2 linked regions of the Homo sapiens genome follow. The protein of the gene in region 1 interacts with the protein of each later gene in a biochemical or structural test. Each region holds a gene or a part of one and is shown on either strand. Other genes may lie near its edges. The genes, in order: UFD1 and GZMK.

Region 1 (3,925 bases):
AGCCATCAGCCTCAGCCTCCCAAAGTGCTGGGATTATAGATGTGAGCCACCGCGCCTGGCCTAGACTTACTCTCTTGAGAGAGTTGTTTAGAATTAAAGTGTTCTCTGTTTACAATTCAATAAAGTTAATAAAAAAGATAGCTGAAGCTGGGTGTGGTAGCTCACACCTGTAATCCCAGCAATTTGGGAGGCTGAGGTGGGTGGATCACTTAAGTCCAGGAGTTTGAGACCAGACTGGGCAACATGGCAAAACCCCATCTCGACAAAAAATACAAAAATTAGCTGGGCATGGTGGCATGCACCTGTAGTCCCAGCTACCTGGGAGGCTGAAGTGGGAGGATCACTTGAGTCCGGGAGGCAGAAGTTGCAGTGAACAGTGACCGTGCCACTGCACTCTAGCCTAGGTGATAAAGCAAGACCTTGCCTCAAACAAAAAAAAAGCAAACCCTGAAAAGTCTACATGCATATTGAATGTTTAAAAACAAATAAAATGAATTAGATAAAGCAAATATCTTGAAAGATAAAACTGTGAAAAATTTTATACTAAGAAATGAGCCAACTTATTTGACATTGATAAATTATTTCCTAGAGAAAAGTGTAATTGAAGTTTGACTAAAGAAAAAAAAAAACAAACAGCCTAAATAATTGTATAGCCAGTCAAGTAATTCAATCAGAAAAATCTTAATCCAGGAAACACAGGCCCAGATGGTTATATATGCAAGTTCTTCCTCACACTCAAGCAATAAATTGCTCTTAGATATTCTAAAAATAGAGAAAGAACATATCCCCCAACTCATTCTCTGAGGTCGGCATAACCTTGATCACCAAAACCACACAAGGATAGGAGAAAGGTAAACTACAGATCATTGTCACTTGATACAGATACATAGATTGTAGATAAAATATTGACAAAAGAATCTGGTCATATATAAGGAAGATTCTATACGGCAGCTGAGTGTAATAAAGCTCCAGTAGTTAAGACACCATATGGCATTGGTTCTGGAGTAGACAAGTAGGCCAGTGGAAGAAAGCTTTATATACAAAGAATCTTGGTCCACCACTGAGGCAGCATTGATGTCACCAGGCAAAGGAGATACTGGGGTTGCGGAATCTGGGATATTGACTATTCCTAAGATGAAAAAACAAATTGAGTTCCTAACTCATACCATAGTCAAAAATAAATTGCAGATGAATGGGTAAATAATATGTGGTACACACATACAATGTAATATTATTCAACATTAAAAAGGAAGGGAATTCTGACACATGCTACCACATGGATGAACATTCTGCTCAGTGAAATAAACCAGATGCAGACAGACAAATACTACATTCCGCTTACATGAGTACTTAGAGTAGTCAAACTCATGGGAGACAGAAAGTAGAATCACCTGGACACCGTGGTTCACACCTGGCATCCCAGCACTTTGGGAGGCCAAGGTTGGAGGATTGTTTGAGCCCAGGAGTTTGAGAGTAGCCTGGGTAACATAGTGTGATCCTGTCACTACAAAAAATTAATGAAAAAATTTTAAAATTAGCTGGGCGTAGTGGCATGTGCCTAGTTACAGCTATTCAGGAGGCTGAGGCGGGAGGATCAGTTGAGTCTGCAGTGAGCCAGGGTCAAGGCACTGCACTCCAGCCTGGGGGACTGAGCAAGACCCTGCCTCAAGGGAAAAAAAAAAAAAAAAAGAATGGTGGTTGCCAGGGCCTCGAGGAAGCAGGAATCAAAAGTGAATGTTTAGAAACGTATAGTAATTTGGCATTGTCATAACCTCCACACACATGGCCACAGAACCAGTACTTGTCTTGGTGAGCTCTGGGCGTCTGGTGTGTGTTGTGTCTTGCTTCTGTGCAGGAGGACCACATGGCAGTCCAGCAGACTGCACATTTTTAAAAACTAGGTCTTCCCAGGTAGTTTGAGGAGCACCAACCTAGAAAATTGGTCCCATAGTTTAAAAAAAAAGTATTTAATATTATGCCAATACATAAAAGTAAATGGAAAATGTCACAGGAATATTTATCCTTACTAAATGCAATAGTACTTCTAGGGTACTGTCTTCCAATTCTTTCCTTTTCAGTTCTGCTTGCAGCCCTGTTGGTTTTATGACCCACTGATTATTTGTGGCCTTTTGAAAACATGAAAACGGTAGAGAAGCATGAGCCAAGCCCTAGGAGACATGTTTGAATGTTTATAGTAGTGTCATTAACACAGCAAAATGATTGGAAACAGGCCGGATGCTCAGTGGATAAGTGGTAGTATATCCACACAATGACAGATCCTTTTTTTATTCCTTATCTATTCAATAATTATGACACTTTTAAAAGTAGATTTGGCCCTGCTTAGGTTTTTTTTTTAAATGGTGGGACTATCCAGACTTTTTAAAATGGTTGTAAAAGCAAGACATACTGGCCGGGCATGGTGGCCCATGCCTGTAATCCCAGCACTTTGGGAGGCTGAGGCGGGTGGATCACAACGTCAGGAGTTCAAGACCAGCCTGGCCAACATAGTGAAACACCATCTCTACTAAAAACACAAAAATTAGCTGGGTGTGGTGGCACGCACCTGTAGTCCCAGTTACTTGGGAGGCTGAGGCAAGAGAATCGCTGGAACCCGGGAGGCGGAGGTTGCAGTGAGCCAAGACCATACCATTGCACTCCAGCTTGGGTGCCAGAGCGAGCCTCCATCTCGAAAAAAAAAAAAAAAAAAAAGCAAGACAGACTTTAGATAAAAGCAAAGAACCTGAAATGATGCAGGAAAAAGTAGATAGGGCCACTTTTAATTTCTATGCTTCTGGAGTTTGTTTGTTTGCTTGTTTGTTTGTTTGTTTTTGACACAGAGTCTCGCTCTGTTGCCCAGGCTGGAGTGCAGTGGCCCGATCTCAGCTTACTGCAAGCTCCACCTCCTGGGTTCACACCATTCTCCTGCCTCAGCCTCCCGAATAGCTGGGACTACAGGCACCTGCCACCACTCCCAGCTAATTTTTTGTATTTTTTAGTAGAGACGGGTCTTCACCATGTTAGCAAGGATGGTCTCATTTGCCTGACCTCGTGATCTGCCCTCCTCGGCCTCCCAAAGTGCTGGGATTACAGGCGTGAGCCACCACGCACGGCCCTGCTTCTGGACATTTTTTATGTGCCTTTTTTACATAGGTGAGGTCATCTTAGACACAAGCAACATGACTGGTTTTACAATTATTTTCCTGTTGGCTGCGTAGCATACCATTGTATAACTGTAAATTTACATATGAAGAAATATAATTCAGCTGCATTTTGAGTATACAGACAGTCCCTGACCATGGTTCTACCTAGAATTTTTCAACTTTATTATGATGCAAACATGATACACATTCAGTAAAAACCATACTTTGAATACCTATACAACCATTCTGTTTTTGATCTTCAGTACAGTATTCAATAAATTACATGAGTTATTCAACATTTTATTATAAAATAAGCTTTATAGTAGATGATTTTGCCCAACTGTAGGCTAATGTATGTGTTCTGAGAATGGTTAAGGCAGGCTGCACTATGATGTTTGGTAGGTTAGGAATATTAATACATTTTTAACTTATAAGTTTATGGGACTTGGTTCCATCATAAGTCAAGGAGCATCTGTACAGTGGTATTAGTGACGTTGGTATGAGCATTCTTAGAATTTTCTCATTGGGTATAGCTAGTTATTTACTTAGAATAAATTTCGAAGGCCGAGTGCGGTGGCTTATGTCTGTAATCCCAGTTCTTTGTGTGGCCGAGGTGGGCGGATCACCTGAGGTCAGGAGTTCGAGACCAGCCTGGCCAACATGGTGAAACCCCATCTCTACAACAATACAAAAATTAGCCAGGTGTAGTGGCACATGCCTATAGTCCCAGCTACTAGGGAGGCTGAGGCAGGAGAAGTGCTTGAACCCTGGAGGCGGAGGTTGCA
Region 2 (3,925 bases), on another chromosome or scaffold:
TCCTTGGGCCTGTTAAGATGTTCCCCTCCTACATATGTTGAGTATCAGAGTTGCTTTTCCTTGTATAAACACAGCCCTGGTGCATTTGTGATAAATTCTTGTTTCTTTCAAGACAGTATATGGAATAACATGGGCCCTTATAAAATATATCATAATCACCTCAAACATGGGGAGGGTGCTAGCAAAATGCATTTTGTAGGTGATTTAACTAATTGAGCCATCCTGTATAAAAATGTTGACAAAATAGAAGGAAGACAATGCTACTACCTACCTTAACCAGCATGATATCATTTGATTGAGGATCTGATGTAACTCTTGAGAATGGTATAAATTTTTTGATCTCCAGTGTTTGTTTGGAGGCCTCATTCTTTGAGAGAGAGTGTGCGCCTAAAACCACAGTGGGAGACTGGCCTTTGGTAAACCTAAAAAAAGCAAAGACAATGAAAGCAGCAGAATGATTTCCAAATCCCCCAGTGGGGAGTGGTGATGGTCGAGAGGGTTGTATACACAGAGAAACAAGGGCTATCTCCAAGGTAACCTGCCTAAGATTAGGTGGAGTGACAAAGGTCTTAGTGGAGCCCAGCATGAATTGATATTAAGGGCCAAATGACTTGCCCTTAATCCCACCCTAAACCAATTCCCTGGCATTGCAAAAGAATATCAGAACTTGTATCCAACTGGGGGAAGAAAAAGGAGTGAAATCCTAATTGACTTAGATCAAGTTTAAAACAAAATTATGTTCATTTATGTAAAAATAAAGCAAATTATATTCCTTGAGTTTGTAGTTTGAGATTTACACCAACTACCATTAAAATTTGTTTATTGTGGTAAAGTATACATAATGGTATAAGAATGGTAAAATTTACCATTTTAACCATTCTTTAATGTACAGTTTGGTGGTATGAAGGACATGTATATTGTTGTTCATCCACCACTATCATCTCCAGAACCCCAGAACTTTTTTTATCTTCCCAACATTAAGTGTTTTAATAATTAAGGTAGCCAGGTGTGGTGGCTCATGCCTGTAATCCCAGCCACTTGGGAGACTGAGGTGGGAGGATCATTTGAGGCCAGGAGTTTGAGAGAAACCTGGGCAATACAGTGAGACCCCCATCTCTAAAAAAACATTAAGGGGCACACTGGTGCATGCTGGGCATGGTGGTGCATGCCTACAGTCCCAGCTGTTTGAGAGGCTGAAGCAGGAGGGATTGCTTGAGTCCTGGAGCTGGAGGCTGAAGTGTCACAGCCTGGGTGACAGAACAAGGCCCCATCTCTTAAAAACAAACAAACAAACAAACAAACAAACAAACAAAAACCACAAAGATCCCCACCCTACACTTGCTCACCCACATGCCTAGACTTCATCTCAGGTCAATGTGGGGAAGTAAGGCCTATTACATGACAGTCAGATATGTCCATATGTCCTGTCCCCTCAATTAGAACAAAGATTTGGACAAGAAAGGAAAACTTTCCTCAAGGTAAGAAAACAGTGCTAATTTAAAATGAAGATACTTTAAGGTTAGTAGCCATTCCATCGGGGAGATTTAGAGGATACGAACTGGTGAGTGAGGTGAAGAAATAGGTTTGTTTTTTGGCTTTCTTTTTTAACGTTTTTTTTTTTGAGAAGGAGTCTTGCTCTGTTTCCCAGGCTGGAGTTCAGTGGCGCCATCTCGGCTCACAGCAACCTCCGCCTCCCAGGATCAAGCGATTCTCCTGCCTCAGCCTCCCGAGAGGCTGGGACTACAGGCTTGTGCCGCCACACCTGGCTAATTTTTGTATTTTTAGTAAAGACGGAATTTCATCATGTTGGCCAGGGTGGTCTCAATCTCCTGACCTCAGGTGATCTACTGGCCTCAGCCTCCCAAAGTGCTGGGATTACAGGCGTGAGTCTCTGTGCCTGGCAAGGTTTGCTTTTTAAATCTCTGGTCATACACAGTTCTAGTACCAGTGTTTCAACAGTGCCACAATTGATCTGATTTACTCTTTGTTGGATAAAATTACATTTACAGCAGTGATAAAGTAGAAATAATTTTTTGGAGATTTTGGCAGAACCGTAGAGCCATTTGTATACTACAGATACATTCCATTACAGTGTCTATCTTTATGAAGTCCACCTCAGATCTTTTAATTGTATTTGTTTGTTTACATGTAACTATTTCTTTGCTACTTGGAAAAGCTACCAAAGTAGATTGCAGTAAAAACACACATACTCATGCATATAGATTAATAAAGATTAATAAAAGTTACAAAGAGCACAGAAACATACAGAAAAAGGAAGACATGATTGTTTCAGATTTGAAAATGGCAAATGCCTGTGGTAGAGTGGGTTTGCTTATGGCAGAGCTGTGACTGCCTGGAATGACCACTTTTTGGTTTCTACCAAAAGAGTTTATTTTTATTTATTTTGGGAATTCCAGCTCTATTTGTTGAAAAGTTTGCCTATTGCAAAATCAGGACCGGGTGGAAATTTCTCATAGGATGTGGACTGGATTTCCTAGGATTGATTTGAATTCAAATTCAACATACCCACTAAACCCAAAACTTTGTAGGAGAAGGATGACATAAAAATCTTCAGGATGAATGCTCTAACAGAAAGGTGGGCACGTGCCTAAATGACTCACACAAAGAAGGCTATGAGGTACAAATGAGAGGTATGGAGGGTGGATTCTCACTAAGGGAGGGATGCTGAAAAAATGTCTGGGTTTCTTTCGTCTTTTACTAATTTACTCGGCTAGTTATTGCCTTTGAAATGTTTTGGTTATTTTTGTCTCCACTGGGACATGTTAAGACCAAAAACAACCCAAGCAGACCATTATTCCTTCTGACCTTTCAATTTCTAGATATCCTTCAACTGTAATCTGTGCTACTCAGGTCAAATTTTCTGCCCACAGGGTACCTGGAATTACTTGAGTTCTGGGATGCCACCTCCTTAGCTAAACTGAAGTCTGAATTCACACAAAGAGGAAGTAATAATGCCAGTGTTTTTCAGTTGCACAGCACAGGATTTCCCCAAATGCAGTCTTCAGACTTGCTTCAGAATCACCTGGAGGTGTTGGTTTAAAATGTGGTTTCCGGAGTCCCACCCTGAGCTTTCCTGGAAGAGATTCATATATGGAGCAGAACTACAGTGCGGCTTATAGTGGGTCTGCTGAAGACATCTGTAAACATTGTCTCCATTGAGCCTAACAATAACCTTTTTCAAGGCTGGTAAAGCTGACGGGCTGTGTATTCCTTACCAGTAAAAGATTGTTCTCTGACTGGTCCAAGGTGACACACCTCATAAATAGGGGAATCAGGACCCAAATTTGGCTTTTGGTGACTCCCAGTCCAGTGCTCTTTCCTCAATCCCTCTTTGAACCCCGTGCCAACCCCCTTCAAGCCTCTTCTTTTCTCTGCCAGCGCGCCTGGACACTCAACAGTGGTTCTGCTTAGACCCGCCCCTTGAGGTCTGGCAGCAAAGGCAGGGTCCCTATGTCTTGGAGATTTCTCTTGCCTAAGAGAGAGGGAGAAGAACTTGGCTGTCAGAGAGGGAGGTCTTCCCAGTCTTATCTCGTCAACATCAGATTAGTTCCTTGGTTATTACCATGGAAGGCACAGATAATTGTATAACAATACTCGATAACATCTATTAAGTTCTTTGTGTTCTGTGCTAAGCATTTTACAAAGCTTCCCTCATTTAAACCGCACAACAGCGTGGTGAGATAGGTATTATGACAATCCCCATTTTATAGATGAAGAAATTGAGGTTCAGGTAAACGAATAAACTTGAGGACCTTTGCCTCCAGGAGGCAAATTCGGGCAGGATTAAAGCTCAGTTGGCTTGAATCTAGAGCCTGAACATTGAACCATTTTGTTCCAGGAGCCTTGAGCATTTGAGATGGAGTGAGGCCATGTGGAAGGGGCTGTGGAAGGTTCCATCTAACAA

The links.
Region 2: of the proteins of UFD1 (region 1) and GZMK, one has a biochemical effect on the other in vitro, tested with the Homo sapiens proteins (one study listed by BioGRID).

Annotation. Positions count from the first base shown.
Region 1 is NC_000022.11:19,458,520-19,462,444, reverse strand, and holds part of UFD1 (ubiquitin recognition factor in ER-associated degradation protein 1), read left to right. Parts: intron 1-3,925. UniProt on the Homo sapiens protein: Essential component of the ubiquitin-dependent proteolytic pathway which degrades ubiquitin fusion proteins.
Region 2 is NC_000005.10:55,026,931-55,030,855, reverse strand, and holds part of GZMK (granzyme K precursor), read right to left. Parts: intron 423-3,925; coding exon 272-422; intron 1-271.